Linked DNA regions of Homo sapiens: region 2 is linked to region 1. The links come from fine-mapping of genetic effects on gene expression. Tissue or cell type: skeletal muscle. Region 1 holds a variant in brackets; the other region holds the start of a gene. All regions are shown on one strand. Distances are between the middles of the regions.

The links. PIP is the estimated chance that this variant, and not a neighbour inherited with it, causes the effect.
Region 2: it holds the start of FAM171A1, and the variant in region 1 is fine-mapped to the expression of FAM171A1 in skeletal muscle (FUSION, PIP 0.95).

The regions. Positions count from the first base shown.
Region 1 is chr10:15,241,601-15,247,095 of GRCh38, forward strand. All of the region lies in intron 5 of FAM171A1 (family with sequence similarity 171 member A1), which reads right to left. Among named protein-coding and RNA genes, the nearest start is that of FAM171A1-AS1, 36 kb to the left of the region's middle. The variant C/T (reference allele first, on the strand shown) is at 2,234.
Region 2 is chr10:15,368,298-15,373,792 of GRCh38, forward strand. It overlaps FAM171A1 (family with sequence similarity 171 member A1), which reads right to left and starts at 2,992. Exons shown (of 8, transcript NM_001010924.2): 1 at 2,659-2,992. The coding sequence starts at 2,755. RefSeq lists silencers at 2,749-2,978, 2,989-3,038.

The DNA.
Region 1 (5,495 bases):
CCATATTTATTGACGTACAGTTGAAAAACAAAAATTTTATGTACTTAAGATGTCTGACCTGATGTTTTGATATATACATCAAGCTAATTAACATATCCATCACTTTACAGTTACCATTGTTTTTTCATCTTCTTTCTCTTGGTGGTGAGAACACTTTGAATCCACCCTCTTAGTAAATTTTAAGTATACAGTACAGTCCTATTAACAACAGTTAGCAGGCTTTGCATTAAGTCTCTGGAGCTTAATCATCCTGAAGAACTAAAACTTTGTACCCCTTGATCAACATTCCCCCATTTGATTTTTTTCTTTAATCATTTAAAAATGTAAAAATGATTCTTAGCTTTCAGGCCACAGTTGGCCAAACCCAATTTAGATGAAAAATTATTAATAGATTCACAAGTTGCTATCTGTGCCATTTCTGGCTGTTAAACAATTTGGAATTGGCAGTTATTTTGATTTACCTCAAAAATAGATAATTTAAAGTATTAAACTATTTGAGATGATCGATTACTGTAATCATAAATAGCAGCTAATTATTAAATTGTTTTATGTGCTTAAGATGTGTTGGCCCATTCCCCATTTTTTTCCTGATCTAATACCGTCTTTAGATTTTTTATTTAACTAAAATATTTTAATTTCTACTTAGATAATATTACAATTAATGTAATAGCAACAAAAGTCTTATGAAATATGCAGGCTTCTATTGAGTATAATAAGTGAAAAAACATATGGTTTCTTTGAAATGTCCATCTTAAAGTTTTCAGAAAACATTTTAATTCATTTGGTTATTTTTGAATGACTATCCACAAACGTTGGCTTTTTTCTGCATACATGCAATCTGTTACAACCAGGAATTTGGCAGTTACATTTTTCATAGTAAATGTGAAGTTAAAAAGACCATTTCGGCCGGGCGCGTTGGCTCACGCCTATAATCCCAGCTCTTTGGGAGGCTGAGATGGATCACTTGAGGCCAGGAATTTGAGACCAGCCCGGGCAACATGGTGAGACCTTGTGTCTACGGAAAATAAACAATAAAACAAATTAGCCAGGTGTGGTGGTGTGTGCCTGTCGTCCCAGCTACTCAGGGGGCTGAGGTGGGAGGATTGCTTGAGCTTGGGAGGTCGAGGCTGCAGTGATCTGTGACTGCACCACTGCATGCCAGTCTGGCTGACAGTGCAGGACTCCGTCTCAAAAAAAAAAGGAAGCGGAAATAGGTCAACTTCACAATGAAGATTCCCAATGTACTGTCATGGTTATTTTTTCAGAGAGGAAACAGAGAATGGGCTAACTTATATTTCAGAGGCTTCCTAACAATGCACACACCTCTGTTTTCACCAATTTCTGTATTGTATTCATTTCCTATTGCTGCTATAAAAAACATTACCACAAATAATAGGGTCTTAAAACAGCACAGATTTACTTTCTTATACTCCTGGAGGTCAGAGGTCCAAAACCAGTTTCTCTGGTCTCAAGTCAAGGAGTCCACAGGGCCGGTTTCTCCTGGAGGCTCAGAAGGGAGAATCCCTTGCTTGCTGATTTTGGCTTCCAGTGGGTGCCTGTATTCCTTGGCTTGGGTCCCCTTCTCGCATTTCCAAAGTGCATGGCTCCGGCCTGCGCTCCCATCCTCACACTGCCGTCTCCTAATCTGATTCTGGCTCCTCTTGCATCCTGCTCATAAGGGCCCTTGTGATGGCCGTGGGCCCACCCAGAAAGTCCATGAGAATCACCCCATCTCCAGATTCTTCATCACTTCCACCAAGTCCCTTGACCGTATAAGGTAATATCCACAGGGCCTGGAGATTAGGATGCAGAGATAGTTCCATCTGCCATGGACATCAAAAACTTCTTTAAGTTTGTTATTTGTGAACTGTATATAAAGTCCACCGAGGAAAGCAAGGATGCTGCTTTCATACACCTGTGCCATATAGTTACAGTGCACACAACCCATACAGGAATCCCTAGGGAAGGCTTCCTTATATTAGGAGCCCCAGCCTTATTCCTCCATATTCAAATATACTCATTAAAAAAGAGAAGGCAAAAATGAGAAGCAAAAAATAAACAGCAGGGATGGAGGCTCCAAGATAGAAAAAAAATCCAATAGAACTGTCCTCCCTCTAAACAAGAGCTTAAACATCATCCTTTTATAACGTGTACATATACATATATACATAAAGGTAAATTCTATGTATACAGTCAATGTATACATTGACTGAGCAGCTCACCGCAAGCTCTG[C/T]CTCCCGGGTTTACTTACGCCATTCTCCTGTCTCAGCCTCCTGAGTAGCTGGGACTACAGGCGCCCGCCACCACACCCGGCTAATTTTTTGTATTTTTAGTAGAGACGAGGTTTCACCGTGTTAGCCAGGATGGTCTTGATCTCCTAACCTCGTGATCTGCCCACCTTGGCCTCCCAAAGTGCTGGGATTACAGGCATATCAGAGTATCTTAAATTGCCTTTTAAAGATATCTAAATTGGCTAGACATGGTAGCTCACGCCTGTCATCCCACGACTGTGGGAAGCTGAGGTGGGTGGATCACTTGAGCTCAGGAGTTCGAGACCACCTAGGCAACATAGTGAAACCCCATCTTTACTAAAAAAATACAAAAATTAGCCTGGGGTGGTGGTGGGCACCTGTAATCCCAGCTACTTGGGAGGCTGAGGCACTAGAATCACTTGAACCTGGGAGGCGGAGGTTGTAGTGAGCTGAGATCTTGCCACAGCACGCCAGCTTGGGCGACAGAGTGAGACTCCGTCTCAAAAAAGCCCCCCAAATTAGCTAGGCCTGGTGACCACCCTTGTACTCCCAGTTCTTCAGGGGGCTGAGGTGGGAGGATTGCTTCAGCTCTTGAGATAGAGACTGTAGTGAGCTATGATCACACCATTGCACTCTAGCCTGGGTGACAGAGGGAGACCCTGTCTCTTAAAAACAAAAGAAAACAAAAAACCCTAAAATTATTCTCATGTGATTCAACCATTCAACAGACATTTTAGTTGGGTACCTAGCATTATGCCAGAAACTGTTATTGATCACAAGCATTCAGAATAAATAGACTTGGTGAGGGCATAGGGAGTAACTGGTACCCACACAGACTTGGTGAAGGTGCAGGGAGTGGCTGGTACCTGCACAGACTCGGTGAGGGTGCAGGGAGTAACAGGTCCCCGCACAGACTCAGGGAGGGCACAGGGAGTAACTGGCACCCGCATACCGTGCCGTTCAAGCTGATAGGACCATTGCAACGTGCACAATGTGCTCAGGATGAGGCCGGGGAGGAGACTGGAAAGGATCGGCTGTGCTCGTGAAAGTGACAAGCTGTCATTTACTTTTGTGATGACTAATTTTGTCTGACAACATGGCTAGGCCACAGTCCCCAGAAATGTGGTTAAATATGTCCAGATGTGACTGGGGAGGTATTTTGTTTAGAAGAGATAAACTGTTCAGCCAGTTGACTTTGCTTTTTTTTTTCTTATTTATTTATTTATTTTTTGAGACGGTGTCTCACTCTGTCATCCAAGCTGGAGTGTGGGGACGCTATCTTGGCCCACCTCAACCTCCACATCCTGGGTTTAAGTGATTCTCCTGCCTCAGCCTCTGGCGTAGCTGGGATTATAGGCATGCACCACCACGCCCAGCTAATTTTTTGTATTTTTAGTAAAGATGGGGTTTCACCATATTGGCTAGGCTGGTCTCAAACTCTTGACCTCAGGTGATCTGCCTGTCTTGGCCTCCCAAAGTGCTGGTATTACAGGCATGAGCCATGGTGCCCGGCCCAATCTGTTGACTTTGAGTGAAGCAGATCACTCTCCACAGTGAGGGAGGGCCTCATCTCATCAGCCTGCCTTGCAATTTTGGACTTGCCAGCCTTCCCAATTGTGTGAGCCATTCCTTAAAATCAATCTCTCCAAATATACATATATCTCCTATTGGCTCTGTTTCTTTAGAGAATCCTAATACACTCATTATAACAACAGTGGGTACTATTATTATTGCCATTTCACAGTGGAAGAAACTAGATCAGAAAGGCTAAGTAACTTGGCCAGGGCCACACAGCCAGTGGGTGGCAGAGCTGGCATTCCACACCACTGTGCCCCCCAGACTCCCTGCTCTTAACCACACTCTCCGCTGCTTCTCAGTGCATTGACCTGGGTGCGCTTCAGCGCCCCCTGGGAGGGCTACAGGGGACAGGCAGACCATACAAGGGGGTGTATATTCATATCTCTTACAAATGCAAATAGAGGTAAGTAATTTGCCCAAGGTGGGACTCACAGTTTTATAAGTAGCAGAACCCAGGTTTTCAGGAAACAAAACACAAACTCAAAGCTCTTTCCATTCTCTTGCCCACTTCCTCTGTGTTTTTCTTTATCCATTTTCTTCCTCCCTTTAGAATTCCGGCATTCTTCAGAGACTCTTGGTCACACATCCCTCAGGCTACTCCCTCCTGGAGGCACAGTGTACCTCAGGTCCCCACCATGACCTTGATGCCCCCCAAATTATCAGGCTCACAGAGAACACACACCATCAATAAAGTGCCCGTCTCGCTTACTGCAGGATATGTGAACAGATTATCAGGCTCTCAGAGAACACACACCATCAATGAAGTGCCCGTCTTGCTTACTGCAGGATATGTGAACAGACAGCATCACAATCCACTTAACAATATCAAGTTTACTGTGGCTGGTAAAATCAATGCATTCCACACAAATAATTACAGTGTCTCTATTAATTATTTGGAAAGTAAAAATAAGACAAAACAAAAATCCCCTCCAAAAGCCCAACAGGCGTTTCTTTTAAAATATAATTCCTAGAACTCTGTTTTAACTGATTCGAGGAATTAGATATCTTTGAAAATATACTGATATCAAAAATCTCCCAATTATCTTCATGCATGGTCTAACAGTTTTAAATTCTGAACTGGCTTATTTGAAAACTGGTATTTTCTTTTTTCGAGACAGTCTTGCTCTGTCATCCAGGCTGGAGTGCAGTGATGCGATCTTGGCTCACTGCAACCTCTGCCTCCCAGGTTCAAGGGATCCTCCCAACTTAGCCTCCCAAGTAGCTGGGACTATGGACATGTACCACCACAGCTGGCTAATTTTTTGTATTTTTAGTAGAGATAGGGTTTCACCATGTTGGCCAGGTTGGTCTCAAACTCCTGACCACAAGTGATCTGCCCGCCTTGCCTCCCAAAGTGCTGGGATTATAGGTGTGAGCCACCGTGCCCAGCAGCAAATTGATATTTTCAAGCTTGACTTTCAGGGCACTAGGAAGCAAAGGGGGGTAAGAGGCCCCACGCTGCCAAGACCCTCAGCCCGAGCACATGCTCGTGGGCTGGTATCATGAGTGCAAACCAATACAACTGTCTGGAGGGAAATCTGGAAATATGTTTTAAAAGTTTTAGAATTTTGTACATTTTGTAACTCAGCAATTCTTCTAAAATGTCATCCTAAGGAAATAACCAAGGCTGTGCATAAAGATTTAGCTAGAAAGATATTTTCTACA
Region 2 (5,495 bases), 130 kb after region 1:
AGAAATTCTGCAGATGCTAGTTTCATCAGATGACATAAAGACTCATTTAATCAAAAAGGTGTCATTTAGTTCTAGCAATCTAGTTGGACTACTACAGTATATGATTTCCGTCTGTTTGAGGTCTCTAAGCAGTTTTACCAAAGTAATTGCCAAATCCTGTTGGTGCATAATATGTATGTGCAATGCTTGTTCAAAGAATGATTCAAACAACAGATTCTACATAAAAGCAAGATTCTTACAAATTAGCTTTTGGGGAAGGTAAACATTGAACTTTTCTTCTTAAAATGCAAGCCAATGATGATCACTAAAGGTTGCGTTATGGTGTAGGTATTAGCTATGGTTGATGCTTACCTACTCAGCACCATCTGAGCACCAACTGTATGCATAACAACCTACAACCCACTGTGGGAAATGCAAAGTGAAATCAGATGCAGCATTTGTCTTCATCGTGTACATGATCCAGGAAAGCAGAGAACACATGAATTTTAAAACTACGTCATACTACAGCAAGTGAACATTAAGATGCTTTGAAGAACTCAGTGAGTTGGGACTGACCTTCTAATGTCAAAGGAGAAATTGTCCATTCCCTTAAAAATGCTGCTAGCTCAAAATCCAAATGCCAGGTAGTGAGACCTGATTTCTGAAAGAGTTCCTGGGCTCAAGGCTTTAAAAAGCCATCCTTACAGTAGATAACAACAAAGGAAGTAATCCAAGGGGTAAACTATGCCAAGATACTTGATCTCCCACTCCAACCATACCCTAAACTAAGCCACTGCTAGCCATGGCAGAAACCTCTTCTCATGTTGACCATTTCCCTCCCATTTCGCATAATATTCCATTCCTGAGAGGCGGATTTTTAGCAGCAAGAGCTGGGTAAAACGTGGTCTTAGACCTAAACCTGTTATATATATATTGAATATATATATATATATATATTGAAGACATGCCTTCCTTTCTCTAATTCAGAAGTGCATGAATTTAATATTTCCATATATTGGTATTTCAAGTGCAAAAGGAAAAATTCAACTTGCTCTTTAAAATTAACGGCCTCGCTGAAGTGCAAATATCATTCTCTAAAATAGCTGATTCAAAAAAGCAGTAGGGTATTAATAAAAGAAGCTGCAATGCAACACTGATGATCTAATGTCCTAAACATTCGTTTCCTACACGAAGAGACATATAGGTCTTTTTGTATTTTGTAGCTGTCCGCTCTTCCATGATATGCATTACTAAAATTATACACAATTCATAACGGTCATATTCTACCATGGCCATAGAAGCAGCAATGCATTTAAGATATACCAGGAAATGATACTGCAAGTGCCAGAATATGAAAACCTTCAACTCAACATGTAGGCAACAAACTCAACCCAACAGAGTGTTGGCAGAGCCTTTCCTCCCCGTAGCAACATCGTGGTGGAAGCCCGGGCGTCTCTGCTCCCAGGCACCCTGAGCATGTTAGCCGAGGAAAGGGGGTTCCAGCAAGGAGACCCTCGGATGCAGCACTCCTCGTTTCTTTGGCCTGCAGGGCCAACTTTGCAGGACACACACCCTTCTGAGGGGACAGGCCTCGGGCTCGGAATCCCGGGGTTCTGCAGGGCTGCAGGGAGCTCCCTCGCAGAGACCTGAGCCCCCGGCAAGAGTCCAGGCAGCGGTGCCCTGGGTGAATGCAGAGGCTCATCTGCGGGCCTCAGTGGCCCTTTTGAAAACGCCAGCAACAGAGGAGTCCTCGACGCTGTCCCCACAAAAATGTGCCAAGCAAGCCTCAGGGTGGGTGTGGGGGACTCCCCTCAAAAAACGCTGATTTTAAAAACAAAAGACAGGCTCGTGGCCATTCTCAGAGGCGACCACGTTACTCCCAGGGCTGGAAAGCAGATTTGTGGAGGCCAAAGACGAGACAAAAGGCACGAGCTGGCGACAAACTGATCTGGAAAGGATTTTTCTTTTTTTTTTTTTTTTTTTTGGTGAGCGATGAGGGCCTCCCAGTTCAATTCTTTCTTCCCTTACAGAGAAGACTCATGGGCCGCTGAGCAAATCCCTTATGGTCTGGAAGAGACGTCAGATAGGCAGGGGGAGAGAACCCCCCAAACTTTCCCAAACTGCGGCAGGCTAGTGGCTAGTGGCGGCAGCGGACCTCGGGGCCCCGGGACACAGGGGGCACCCCGGGGCGTCAGCCACCCCCTCCCGCCACAACAAAAGGCCCCAGCGCAGCCCAGGAGCTGGGACTTCCCAGACCCGAGCCCGGCGTGGGGAGCCGGGAGCGCGATCGGGCGGCGCGCCCTGGGCGGCCCCTCTGTCCGCGGCGACATGGGAGACAGAGCCGCGTGTCCGAGGCGCGGCATAAAGGGGACCCCCGGGCGCATCCAGACGAGCCCCCGCCGCAGCGGCGACAGCAGCTGGAGCTGCCCGCGCCCCCGCCCGACCCAGCCCCCGATCCCCGGCCCCCGAAGCCTCCGCCCGGGTCACCCCGCGTCGCCGGCCCGCGCCGCCCCCTCGGGAGCGCGTTGCGGGTGCTGCAGGCCCGGAGGCTCCCGATGCGGCTCGGGCTGCGTCGCCACCACGCGGCCCGGGACCCTCCCGCCGCCGCCGCCGCCGCCGCCGCCTCCGCGCCAGGCCCGGCGCGACACAAAGCCCCCGGCCCCGCCGCCGCCCACTGACCTTGGGCTCCGGCGCCGGGCTCCCGCAGCGTCTTGGTCACCGCCTTCCAGACGTGGCAGCCCAGCAGGCACAGCAGCAGCGTCGCGGACCTGCTCATCTCCGCCGCGGGGCCGGCGGCGGCTCGGGCTCGCCGAGAGCGGGCCGGGCGGCGGCGCGTCACGGGCGGCCGGGCGCCGCGCCCCCCTCCATGTCGCTGGCTCCGCGCGCCGGGCCCGCCGCCCGATTGGCCCGGCCCCGCCGCCCCGGCCGCTCCCTCCCGCGCCCCGCGCCGGGTTTCCCCGAAGAGCCGCGGCGGCGGCGGCGGCGGCGGCTGCTGCTGCTCCGCCAGCTCCTTAACCCCTTCCTGCCTCGCCCGCCGCCGCCGCCGCTGCCCGCGCCCAGGCCCCGGGCCCGTGGTGCCACCTGGCGGCTGCGGCGCCGAGGGCGCCCCCGCCCGGCGCCGCTGCGTCGCGCCCCCAGCCCGACCCCCGGCGACACTGCCCCGGCGCGCCCCATCCCCGCAGCCCCGCAGAAGAGCCAGACCTGCCTTTCAGGGCGGAGCCCTTTTCATCACACCAGGTCACCCAAGGGGCCGCAGGAGACATTGTATCTGGGTGTGACCCCCCCACCAGGTGCCATCCTAATGTAGTTGTGTCCCCCAACGTAGATTTCACACCCAGTGTTAAAGATCCGCAAAAACACTCCCCAAGCCAGTATAGACTGCAGTAGGCCTGCAGTACCTACGTGTTGGCGGGTGGACAGCTTCAGGAGGAATGGTACTTGGATGGTTCTAGGGGTTAGGGTGGGGAGGAAATCCACATCTTTTGAGGCCCTAGGTGCTTTAAAACTTTCTGTCCTATTAAAGAAAAAAGACTATTCCATGACACGTGTGAAAGCACAGCAAAGAAGACCCTCTTTGGAACCATCGCAATAGGTATAAGCCCTACCATGGGATTCTGCAGTCGGGGAGAAAGGTTGGGTTCAACTCTGAATACAGCAGGAACAAGTGGGGATTTATAACCGAGGACCAGGGTGGGATGCAGGGAATGAAAAATTATAAGAGGAAACATCAGGGGGAAGGGGGATTCTTGAAAGTCAGACATCCCCTGGCAGGGCTGGGCAGGACAGGGCGGATGGGGAAGCTGATCAGATATCCAGGGTGGAGGGTTCTTGGTAAACTGACTTAGCAGGGTTCTTCCTGAAAGCAGATTTTACAAGGAAGGGCACAACTGAGCCTAGAAGAAGGTTCCGGAGCCTGACTGTAGTTCGGTCAAGCAGAGACTCTTTGTCCATCTTCACAATACATGATCTAAGAGGTAGTTAGCATTATCCCCCCCATTCACAGATGAGAAAAGAGGCTAAAGAGGGTTAAGGAATTTGTCCAAAAGTGCATACCTGGTCAGTGGCAGAGCCAAAATTCTAATAAAACAGTCAGTCTGACCCCAAAATTGAAACTCTTCACAAAAACCTCCAGACTTGGCTGGGTGTGATGGTTCATGCCTATAATCCCAACACTTTGGGAGGCTGAGGTAGGTGGATGGCCTGAGTTCAGGAGTTAAGAGACCAGCTGGGCCAACATGGTGAAACCCTGTCTCTACCAAAAATACAAAAAAATTAACCAGGCATAGTGGCCCATGCCTGTGGTCCCAACTACTCAGGAGGCTGAGGTGGGAGGATCGCTTGAACCTGGGAGTGGGGAGGTTGCAGTGAGCCAAGATCGTGCCACTGCACTCCAGCCTGGATGACAGACTGAGACCCCGTCTCAAAAAAAAAAAAAAAAAAAAATCAAAAAATAAAACCACCAAAAAAACCACACACAAAACAAAACCAAACCTCTAGACTTTCCTTGAGCCTAGGGACCCCCTCCATTCCAACCTCAACTTTTCTTTCTCTCAACCCACTCCTGTCGGTATGCCTTCCACACAACCTTCACCTCCACTTGTCCCTCTCCACCTTCTCTTCCAACTAGCACTGCGGTGACCTTCCGACTTCCACTGGGGACCTAGGAAAATCCACTCCAGACCCATCATCCACCCCACACTGCTTCCAGAACACCAGGCCAGAAGGAGGGTTATTACTGTAATTTCATTAATTGAGCATTTAGACATGGCAGGCACCGTACCAAAAAAAGAATGAAGGATGGCACTTGCCCAGTTGGCTTATAAAAGACAAATGACTGTGAGACATGAGAAAAACTAGGACGTACAGAAGCCCATATGGGTTTTATAGTCACCCTTAGGACCAATGCTGCAATTTGCGCAAATCACGCACCTGCACAGGGTGGCAGGTAGTCAGGAAGGCAGAAAGAAATAGGGACTGCTGGATTCCCTCCTTCTTCTGATTCCTGCATCTAAGCCTAATATATGGCATCAAAGTTCCTAATATATGGCACTCACTGAACTGGAGCTATTTCCTCATAACAACTTATTTGGTAGGTATCATTGTTTCCATTTCACAGATGAACAAACCGAGGCTTGGTGCCATTAAACAACTTGCCCACAATACAAAGATCTGATAAGTGTAAATTCCCTATACCATGTTACTTCTGAGAATAAATTTTATGCAAATGATTCAAATTACCTCCAGGAGTGTCCAAATTGTTTGAACCTGCTCTAATCCCAGTGAAGTGCAAATCTAGTGAATACTATGGTGCCAATGTTCATTTCCTGGCATTGACAGTGTACTACAGTTATATAAGATGTTACAATTGGGGGAAGCTGGGAGAAGGATAGATGTGACCTCTCTGTACTATTTTTGTAACTTTTTATGAGTCTATAATTATTTCAGATGGAAATATTTAAAATAGAAAAAAAATCCCATTCTATGCCATTTTTCTAAGTCTTATTGTTCACTCAAAA